Homo sapiens: one gene and its partners. The protein of the gene in region 2 purifies or fractionates together with the protein of the main gene of each other region. This does not show direct contact. Each region holds a gene or a part of one and is shown on either strand. Other genes may lie near its edges.

What was found.
Region 1: the proteins of PYM1 (region 2) and PRDM10 purify together in Homo sapiens (co-immunoprecipitation; one large-scale study listed by IntAct). This does not show direct contact.
Region 3: the proteins of PYM1 (region 2) and PINX1 purify together in Homo sapiens (co-immunoprecipitation; one large-scale study listed by IntAct). This does not show direct contact.

Annotation. Positions count from the first base shown.
Region 1 is NC_000011.10:129,992,636-129,996,364, reverse strand, and holds part of PRDM10 (PR domain zinc finger protein 10), read left to right. Parts: intron 1-3,729.
Region 2 is NC_000012.12:55,921,361-55,925,089, forward strand, and holds part of PYM1 (partner of Y14 and mago), read right to left. Parts: intron 2,412-3,729; exon of another isoform or gene 2,081-2,411; intron 1-2,080. UniProt on the Homo sapiens protein: Key regulator of the exon junction complex (EJC), a multiprotein complex that associates immediately upstream of the exon-exon junction on mRNAs and serves as a positional landmark for the intron exon structure of genes and directs post-transcriptional processes in the cytoplasm such as mRNA export, nonsense-mediated mRNA decay (NMD) or translation.
Region 3 is NC_000008.11:10,815,876-10,819,375, forward strand, and holds part of PINX1 (PIN2/TERF1-interacting telomerase inhibitor 1), read right to left. Parts: intron 1-3,500. UniProt on the Homo sapiens protein: Microtubule-binding protein essential for faithful chromosome segregation. Mediates TRF1 and TERT accumulation in nucleolus and enhances TRF1 binding to telomeres. Inhibits telomerase activity. May inhibit cell proliferation and act as tumor suppressor.

The DNA of each region.
Region 1 (3,729 bases), on a different chromosome or scaffold from region 2:
GCACAAAAACAGGTGTCTGCCGCCTGCGGGCTGTGGCTCGCCATCCCCTGTACCAGAGCAAGCTGAACCCACACCGCCCTTGTTGAAGTGTCAAGACCATCTCATTTGAAAGTAATCCTTTTTGTCTCTGAAGGTCCTGCAGGATTTTGTACTGCTTTATAACAGTAACATTCAGTGCTTACGTTGTATTGTACTCCAATTATTTGTGCTTATTTCTTGCTTCCCAAACAGATTCTAAATTTCTGGAAGCTACAGGTGATTTTTAGCCCCCTCACGTAGAATGCAGTATAAATGAGTGCCTTTTACTTACTGGATTCTAAAATGTTTTGAGGGATAAGTGAGTGAATTAAAATACTTGAAGTTGTTTGTAAAGTTTTCCTCCCTTTTTTTTTCTTTTTCTTTTCTTTTCTTTTGTTTTTGAGACAGAGTCCCGCTCTGTTGCCCAGGCTGGAGTGCAGTGGCATGATCTCAGCTCACGGCAACCTCCGTCTTCTGGGTTCAAGTGATTCTCCTGCCTCAGCCCCCCAAGTAGCTGGGATTACAGGAGCCCGCCATCACACCCGGCTAATTTTTGTATTTTTAGTAGAGACGGGGTTTCATCATGTTGGCCAGGCTGATCTTGAACTCCTGACCTCAGGTGATCGGCCTGCCTCGGCCTCCCAAAGTGCTGGAGTTACAGGCGTGCGCTACGGCCCCTGCCCCTCTCCCCCGCCTTTTTTTTTCAAGATTCTTATTTTTGTGTGCAAATTCTACCATTTTCTTAGAATTGCTTGAAGATTTTGAGGCCAATTTATTGGGGGTTATTTTCAGTCTTTCCACAAACCATGATTACAGGCAGTCTTAATAGAATGTCCTTCTAATAGGGACTAGCTATCATTCCTTTAACTAATTATTGCTCTTTGTTTGACTTTTTAACTGTCCTCTCTGAGACACTTGTTTACGTTTAGTCTTCAACACAGAATATTGACAGAACCGTGTCCAATTTTGCAAAGGAGAGAAAGTAGGTAGAGGTCAGGGAATTATGCAAGTATGGGAGAGGGGTCAGAGCGCATGGGAGAAAAGGGTCTGTATCCTCAGCCCCAGGCAGGGGATGTATATTAATAAGGTTTCAGTCTCTTCCATCATGTATTCATCTTCTCCTTCATTCTTTTTCTCTTGAAGTTGATGAATTGAAAATTATTCCGGACTGTGTAAGTACTTTATCACTGGATAAATATAAGGACCCATGAATGGTAATATTTGGACACCACTTTATGTGACATGCAAGTTCTCTCAAGTACTTTAGTACTGTGGAAGTGTGAGATGTTACATTACTACAAAACAGTAATTCTGGAATTAAAATGAAATTATGTCATAGTAATTGGACTTTGATGAACTTTGTTTCATTTATACATTTTAAGAAAGTTTATGTTGGCCAGGCGCAGTGGCTCACGCCTGTAATCCCAGCACTTTGGGAGGCCGAGGCAGGCGGATCACGAGGTCAGGAGATCAAGACAATCCTGGCTAACGCGGTGAAGCCCTGTCTCTACTAAAAATACAAAAAAAATTAGCCGGGCATGGTGGTGGGCACCTGTGGTCCCAGCTACTCGGGAGGATGAGGCAGGAGAATGGCATGAACCCAGGAGGCGGAGATTGCAGTGAGCTGAGATTGTGCCACTGTACTCCAGCCTGGGCGTCAGAGCGAGGCTCTGTCTCAAAAAAAAGAGAAAGAAAAAAAGAAATTTTATGTTAACTTTTTAATATTTTTTAATTTTTTTAGAGACAGTGTCTCACTGTGTTGCCAAGGCTGGTCTCTAACTCCTGGGTTCAAGCCATCCTCCTGTCTCAGCCAACCGAGTAGCTGGGGTTACAGGTGCAAACCACCACCACCAGTTTCGTTTCTTTTTTTTTTTTTTTTTTGAGGCAGAGTTGCGCTGTGTCACCTAGGCTGGAGTGCAGTGGTGCGATCTCGGCTCACTGCAACCTCTGCCTTCTGGGTTCAAGCAATTCTCCCTGCCCCAGCCTCCTGAGTAGCTGGGATTACAGGCACCCACCACCACGCCTGGCTAATTTTTGTACTTTTTTTTTAGTAGAGATGGGGTTTTGCCATGTTGGCCAGGCTGGTCTCGAACTCCTGACCACCCGCCTCGGCCTCCCAAAGTGCTGGGATTACAGGTGTGAGCCACTGCACCCAGCCCCAGTTTATTTTCATACTTATATATACTTATCCCAAGCTCTAGGTATCTCACCAAAAACTTATACATCATTTACAAAATATATTTTTTTCAGATTCATGGTTTTAAATGGTTATAAACTATAACAGATATAGAAAATTCTAAAACTTTATTGAGTGGCTTTAAATAAAACCTAAATAAATGAAGAGCACAGTGGCTCAAGGAGTGGAAGATTCAATATTGTAAATGTGTCAATTTTCTGGAAACTGATTTATAGATCTAATGTAATCCCACATTTAAAAAAATTAGACAAGCTGATTCTAAAACATTTGCCAAGGCCCAAGAAAAGGCAAAACACTTTGAAAAAGAAAAGTTAGGAAAACCTCTGCTAGAGATCAAGAAGAGTTATAATAATTAAGATAGTGTTGGGCCAGGCGCGGTGGCTCACGCCTGTAATCCCAGCACTTTGGGAGGCCGAGGCGGGTGGATCACGAGGTCAGGAGATCAAGACCATCCTGGCTAACATGGTGAAACCCCGTCTCTACTAAAAATACAAAAAGTTAGCCAGGTGTGGTGGCGGGTGCCTGTAGTTCCAGCTACTCGGGAGGCTGAGGCAGGAGAATGGTGTGAACCCAGGAGGCAGAGCTTGCAGTGATCCGAGATCGCACCACTGCACTCCAGCCTGGGCGACACAACGAGATTCCATCTCAAAAAAAAAGATAGTGTAATATTGGCACTGGGTAGGCTAATAATGATGGACCAATAGAACACCATATGGAGTCCAGAAACAGTATTATGCATAGCCAGACACTTGATTTATGACCTGGAGGCATGGCAGAAAGGCAGGCAAAACAATAACACTTTTAGAATTAATATAGGAAGATACTCATGACCTTAGTATAGAGAAACATTTCTTAAACAAGATGCTACAGGCACTAATAGAATAATGGGCAAAAGTCTTGAACAGCCACTTCAGAAAAGGAGAAATCCAAATGTCTAATAAACATGAAAAGGTGTTCAACCATGTTAATGAAGGAAATGCACATTTCAGCCACAGTGCCAGAACACTGTATACCTAAATTAAAGTTGGATGTTGAACAGTAGGGACTTTCATAGATGGCTGGTACAGATATAAATTCATATGACTACCTTGGAAAACAGTATTATCAAGAAAGTCCAAAACATGCATACTTTAATGACCAGCAGTTCCAATATTAGAGAAATGCATGTGCCTGAGAGAACTAGAAAAAGTATTTGGAGTAATTTATTTTCATAATACTGATTCAATTACTATTTCAGGACTGCTGTGTTGTGTTCTGAACACACAGGTAGCTTTGTTTCTAGAACAATGGTGAATAAATGTTATTTATATTTTCCTTCTGTGCTGAATGTTTATATAGTCCATCCAATGTCTTCTTCAGTTCCTAAAAGAATGCTGGAAACAGAATAGGCATTTAATAAGTATTCTTGTGTTTTAAAAAATTATTTGAATTTTTACAATGGGAGCCCTTCATCACAGCTTTGTAGTTACCTCAACTCTGGCTGTTGAGTAATTTGCTCAGTTAAATCTGTTTGT
Region 2 (3,729 bases):
GACTTAGATTCCCAAGGCTATATAGCTAACAAGTACTGTAGATGGGATAAGGGTAACAGCAGTAGGAATAAAAGAATGATATTTTGATAACTGATATACATGAGGAGGGCAAGAGAGAAGTAAAAGATGATAATAAAAATAATCATAAAAAAATAAAACTCCCATAAATAAAAAAAAATACTCCCATAGAAATAAAAACACCTAGTGATCAGATCTTAGTTTTTAACATTACTCTTTAGTAAAAAGAACAAGGGCTTCTTGGAGAAATGGCAGACCGCAGGACTGGAGCAGAGAACAAAATCATACCTGCAATGATGGCAAATGTCAAAGGGAGATGGGCCAAGTAAAAAACTAAAAGAGTTCCCAATGTTCAAAACTGGAACATTTGAGCAATAAAGCAAATAAAATAGTATTGGATTATAACCTAACATATAAAATACACATCTATAAGTCCATATTGATATACATAAATTAATAAAGGAAAAGAAAAAAATCTCCTGGGCAGAAAAATGCCAAATAGTGTGTTTTTTTAATTGTTTTTTGAGACAGCCTCTCACTGAGGATGGAGTACAGTGGCACAATCACGGCTCAATGCAGCCTCAGCCTCCCTGGCTCAATCTTCCCCTCTGAGGCTCCCTGAGTAGCTGGGACCACAGGTGTGTGCCACCTTACCCAGCTCGTTTTTTTTTTAAATCTTTTTGTAGATAAGAGGTCTTGCTATGTTGCTTAGGATGGCCTCAAGCAATCCTCCAGCCTCAGCCTCCCAAAGTGCTGGGATTACAGGCATATGCCACCATGCCCAGCCCTTAATCTCTTTTTTTAAGGAGAGCACAACTCTCTACTCCTTATGCGTGGGCTGGCAATAGTGACTTCCCTACAGTATGGAAAGGAAGGGGGTAAAGCCTAACTTTACAGTGAAGCCTTACAAACAATATCTCTGCCAGATGATCACGGTCAATACTAACAGGCTGGGCATAGTGACTCATGCCTAGTAATCCCAGAATTTTGGTAGGCCAAAGGGGAACAATACCTTGAGCTCAGGAGTTCAAGACCAGCCCAGGCAACATAGTGAGACCATCTTTACCAAAAAAAAAAAAAAAAAAAAAATTAGCTGGTCATGATAGCACACGCCTGTGGTCCTAGATACTCAGGAGGCTGAGGTGGGAGGATCAATTGAGACTGGGAGGTCAAGATTTCAGTGAGCCATGATGGCATCACCGCACTCCAGTCTGGGCAACAGAGGGAAGACCCTGTCTCAAAAAAACAAAAATATTAACAGTAAAAAATCATTGTGATACTATGTACCCTGATACAATGTGATGAAAATGTCACTTTACCTCTGTGGTCTTCCTCCCCAAAACACATAACCCAAATCTAATCATGAGAAATACATCAGACAAATTCCAATAGAAGGATATCCTACAAAATACCTGACCAGTACTCCTCAAAACTCAAGGTCATGGAAAACAAGGAAAGCCTGAGAAAATGTCACAGCCAAGAGGAGCTTAAAGAGACATGAGAACTAAATGTTATGTAGTACCCTGGATAAGATCCTGGAACAACAAAAAAAAATTAGGTAAAAAGGCTGGGCGCAGTGGCTCACACCTGTAATCCCAGCACTTTGGGAGGCCGAGGTGGGCAGATCACCCGAGGTCAGGAGTTTGAGACCAACCTGACCAACATGGAGAAACCCATCTCTACTAAAAATACAAAATTAGCCGGGCATGGTGGCACATGCCTGTAATCCCAGCTACCCAGGAGGCTGAGGCAGGAGAATCACTTGAACCCGGGAGGCAGAGGTTGCGGTGAGCTGAGATCTCACCATTGCACTCCAGCCTGGGCAACAAGAGCAGAACTCCGTCTCAAAAAAATAGTAATAAATAAATAAATATAAAAATAAATTAAGTAAAAACTAAGGAAATCAGCCAGGCATGGTGGTTCACACCTGTAATTCTAGCACTTTGGGAGGCCAGGGCGTGAGGATTGCTTGAGCCCAGGAATTTGAGATCAGACTGGGCAACAGAGCAAGACCGCATTTCTACAAAAAATACAAAAATTAGCCAGGCGTGGTGGTGTGTACCTGTAGTCCCAGCTACTCAGTAGGTTGAGATGTGAGGATCACTTGAGCCCAGAAGTTAAGACTACAGTAAATGGTGATTGCACCACTGCACTCCAGCCTGGGTGACAGAGCAAGACCCTGTCTGAAAAAAAAAAAAAACAAAACTAATGAAATGATGTATGGATTCTAGTTAATAGTAATATATCAATATTGCTTCATTAATTGCAAGCAAAGTACTATATTAACGTAAGATGACAGTAATGGGGAAACTGAGTGTAGGGTATATGGGAAATCTCTGTAGCATCTTCTCAATTTTTCTATAAATCTAAAAGTGTTCTAAAAAATCAAGTATATTTAGAATATTAAAAAAAGAAATGGCTAGGCGTGGTGACTCATGCCTGTAATCCCAGCACTTTGGGAGGCCAAGGCTGGCAGATCACGAGGTCAGGAGTTCGAGGCCAACCTGACCAATATGATGAAACCCTGTCTCTACTAACAATACAAAAATTAGCCAAGCGTGGTGACATGTGCCTGTAATCCCAGCTACTCAGGAGGCTGAGGCAGAAGAATCACTTGAACCAGGGAGGCGGAGGTTGCAGTGAGCCGAGATCGCGCTACTGCACTCCAGCCTGGGCGACAGAGTGAGACTCTGTCTCAAAGAAAAAAAAAAAAAGAAACGATACAAAAGTTTACCTTGGGTTGGCTAGAATAATGGTGCCTTTAACAGAAATAGTGATGGAAAAACTGATACTGGTTTTGGTCAGGTTGGATTTGAGGTATAACAGTATATCCAAGAGTGAAGATATTCACGAAACAATTAGAAAAAGGCATAGGCAACTCGAGAGAGGGTAGTGCTAGAAATAATGACTGCAAAGAGTTAAGAACAAATAGGCAGCAAGGAAACAGAAATATCAGGAGATTTCTTCATATTCGAGAAATCTGGGGCCAGGTGCATGCTCACACCTGTAATCCCAACATTTTGGCAGACTGAGGTGGGAAGATCACTTAAGGCCAGGAGTTCAAAACCAGCCTGGGCAACATAGCAAGTCTGCATCGCTTCATTTTTAAAAAAAGAAAGAAACAAACAAAATCTGGCTGTGAAGAAAAAGGAAACAAAAATGATAGGCCTTGAGTTTTCAGTGAAATAAAAATGAAGTCTTCTGCCAAAAGAAGGAGAATTAAAAGGGATGGTCACACAGATCTGGAAAAGGTTGGGGAAACAGCTATGGAAGAACATAAAAAATAAATTTAAATATTTATTTATTATTTATTTTTGAGACAGAGTCTCGCTCTGTCGCCCAGGCTGGAGTGCAGTGGTGCGAACTCAGCTCACTGCAACCTCTGCCTCCTGGGTTCAAGCGATTCTCCTGTCTCAACCTCCCGAGTAGCTGAGATGACAGGCCCACGCCACCATGCCACCACACTCAGCTAATTTTAGTAGTTTTAGTAGAGACGGGGTTTCACCATATTGGTCAGGCTGGTCTTGAACCCCTGACCTCAGTTGATCCACCCACCTCGGCCTCCCAAAGTGCTGGGATTATAGGCGTGAGCCGCCATGCCCAGCAAAAAATTTTTTTAAAAAGAAAAAAATAATTAGAAGCCATGATCTTGGCAGAAGTTAAGTTATATTGAATCTGATAGCTCTGTACTTTTTCTCTAGCAACATGCTG
Region 3 (3,500 bases), on a different chromosome or scaffold from region 2:
CACTGAGCATGGCTAAGTGCAGGAAGTAGATCATGGAAACGACAATCGGCCTTTAGCACTGGGTAGTGACCCCTGCAGATCTGAGCAGCCTCAGCATCAAACGGAGAGACCATGTGGTCTGTACACACGATATTCCACTCCTAATCAGACGATTCTGTCGGCAGCTGTGATTGTCAGGGTCACGGGCGGTGTTGGAGGGGTATGCAACTATGATTGGGGTTAGCACAAGGGAGGCCTTGGTGGTAATGAAATAGTTCAGGATCTTCACTGAGATAATAATGGTTACACAATCCACAAATGTGATAAAGGGGCACAGAGCTGTATGAGCAGATGGTACCAATGCCAATTTCCTGGTTTCATCATGCTGTACTGTAGTTACGTAAGATGTAACCACTGGGGAAAACCAGATGAAGGGTACACAGAACCCCTTTACTATCTTTGCAACATCCTGTTCATCTATAAAAAGTTAAAGAAAAAACCCTCATGACTATTAATCAAGGGCTGCAGATGTTTCTTAGATATAAATACATTCAGATCATCCAGTTCAATAGAGAGACGAAAAAATACACAAGCAACACAACATCTATGCTCCAGATGCTCAAGCTCTTTCTTAATTCAGCCTCCAGCCAATAAGGAAGTCAAGTCGTTCTTCAGGCTGGCCTGGACACCTGGTCACATGCTTGTCAACCCCTAACAGCTCACCTCTGACTACAGGTAAGGTAAAGAAGTTTTGAAATTTAAACCATTATTTTCCACAAAATAGCAACAGCCAATCATTTTCCCACAAAGTTACGATACAGCATCAACCACTGGTGTCTCTGGTGAAGCTCAACAGAAGCTGCTAAGGCCTAACTAACCCCCTTCAATGTAGATTTTTTGTTAAATGAGAAAGAGTTCATTAACTTCGGCAGGACTGCTGTATTATCGGAGAAAGGCTGATTTTGGAATTGGACGGACACAGATTTAAAAGCCCACGTGTGCCATTTTGGAGCATTCTAACAATTCTCTCTGTGCCTCAGTTTCCTCACTGCTACAGAGGAGATACTGATATTTACATGACGGGATTGCTGTGAGGATGAAATGAGAAAAATCCAGCACAGGGTTTGGCACACAGGTGCTTAATAAAATTGGAATTCTACGATGGCAGTCAGGAGCTGTAGAAATTAAAATCAGTAGGCTTCCCTTATTGCAAGGGTGATGCTGTTACCCAAGCCAAGAACATGGTTAACGCCAACGTTCTGGAACTCTGGATGCTGAAGACAGATCAGCATCGGCACCTAACTAGAGCACCCACAGAGCTACTGCTACCTTAGTGGCCCGCACTACCACGGTTTCCAGGACTCTGGAGGGAGGTGACCTCCAGCAACACCTTGGCCTCTGCAATGCCAAATATAAATCCAGACCGACGGAGCTATGAGAGTCAAGCGAAGCAACAACATACAACATTCCCGCCAACTGAGGATGGGAGCCGAAAGAGGTTGTATTTTCAAACAAATCTGATCAAAGTCCTCCTGCCTTTGACTATAAGGGCTGTTGTAACTAACAAGGTTAAGGTTTCTTAGCAATAGTCTACTCAAGGAAGGTACCGGTATACCTCAATAAAAGCAAACTTAACATATGAACATCCACAAGGATGTCAAAGATAAATGTAGAGGTCATTTTGCTTTATAGAAAGATACTCTGTTTGTCTTAAATGTGATTACATTTAAATAGATTCTGTTTTCTGCACACATGCAGGCATGTCAAAAGGAAAATACTGCCTAGACGCGACCTCCTCAGTGTGGCACACAGGTCAGCAGCAGTATCACCTGGGGGCTCCTCGGATGGGGATGTACAGGCTCTCAGCCCCCGCCCAGGCTTCCTGAGTTGGAATCTGCAGTTTGACAGGGAAGACCTGTACACACGGCAGGACTTGAGGAGCTCTGTCCTCAGGGTTACTCACGACCCGGAAGCCAGAAGCTCTCAGTACAGCTGCATGGCAGGCTATCCCCGTGTTCTCAACCCTCGCTCCTTACTGAACGTCAGAATAACTGCTGCAACAATTGGGGAGGAATTAAAAAAAAATTTTTTTTAAATTTTTCTCCTTTTGTAATATAGATACCTGGACCCTGACCGAAGATTTAATTTAATCGGTCTTGGGCAGAACCCTGGCATTAGCATTTGTTTAAAGCTCATTAGGCAATGCCAGGACGACCTTGTTGAGAACTATGGCTACAGACGGAGAGCAGGGCCTGGTAGAAGACCACCTCACCAACAGGTAGGACCTAAATTTATCACTGGAAGAAAACACTGAACTGGAAGAGAGAGAGAGATGTGACTAATGGAAATCTCACACAAAACACGATGTTGCATCAAGGTTGATCATCTCTACACACACTGGACCAAAAGAGATTTTCCTGGGGCTAGCATTAGGGAACTGCTTTTGAAGCTCCTCAAACACAGGTGGATGTCTCACTTTAACATGACTTAGCTACCAAAGAGTCAAGTAACACCACACAGTGTTGAAAACCTCAAGGCACCCAACACCCAATAAATTCTCAAACAGAAATCTGCCAGAGGATCAGAAACCTCTGATCTCTTACAACTAAGAGCTTTCTGCACCAAACACATAAATTCTCTTAAAGTTCTACAAAAGCCCACAAGTAACATTTCCCTCCCTGATCTGTTCAACTGTACATTTTCATAGAGGGTGTCCGGGAGGGCAAAGGCTGGGGGTGGTGGGTGAGCAGCAGGCAGAAGAGAGGATCAACGTGCAGGGATGTGGAAACGCCAGTACAGAAGGCACGTGAGCCCCACGGGGCTGGGGAGATGGGGGTTATCTCAAGGTATGGGAGGGACGTGGAGTTGATACAAAGGCTCAGGGTGTGATCGTGGGGTGGGGGCAGCTGTTGGGCAGAGCAAAGGAGATGGAGTTCAAGAGGCGCGGGACTGGAATTCTAGTTCTTCCTGAGGACACGGAGACGACTGAGAGAGTCAAGGAAGAGGGGTTGGAGAGGAGGCTGGGATAAGCCAGAGGCCATGTCCTTGGTGAACAAGGAAGAGTGGCGTAGTCCAGGTCTCACGGTGAGCACTGAGGGCAGAGGTACAACCAGAAGCCAGCCTGTCTGACCATGGCTCTTTCCAGCAGCCCCTTGTGAAGGAGCAGCCGGCACGGCCGGATGTCAGAGCGGCTCCTCCCTAGTGACCACTGCCTATCCCGTGACTCAGCATAGTCCGCGCAGGCACCAAAGCCAGGTATCCTTTCCCAGCCTGCTGCTTCCATCTGCTGAGGGTGCAGGGGCAGACAGGGGCTAAAAGACCCAGGAATTCAGTCCCAATCTGCACAGGGAATCATCTAATGAGACTTCTAACCACTGGTAATTCTGGACTCCCTAAAAATTATTACTATTAAGAAACAAACCACCACCCTAGAAATAAAGATTTCTGTCAGTCTGGAAAAATGCCAGGAATCAATAAACCAAGTCTTCTTTTTTGTTCTATGGTCACCAAGGGCCCTGGCT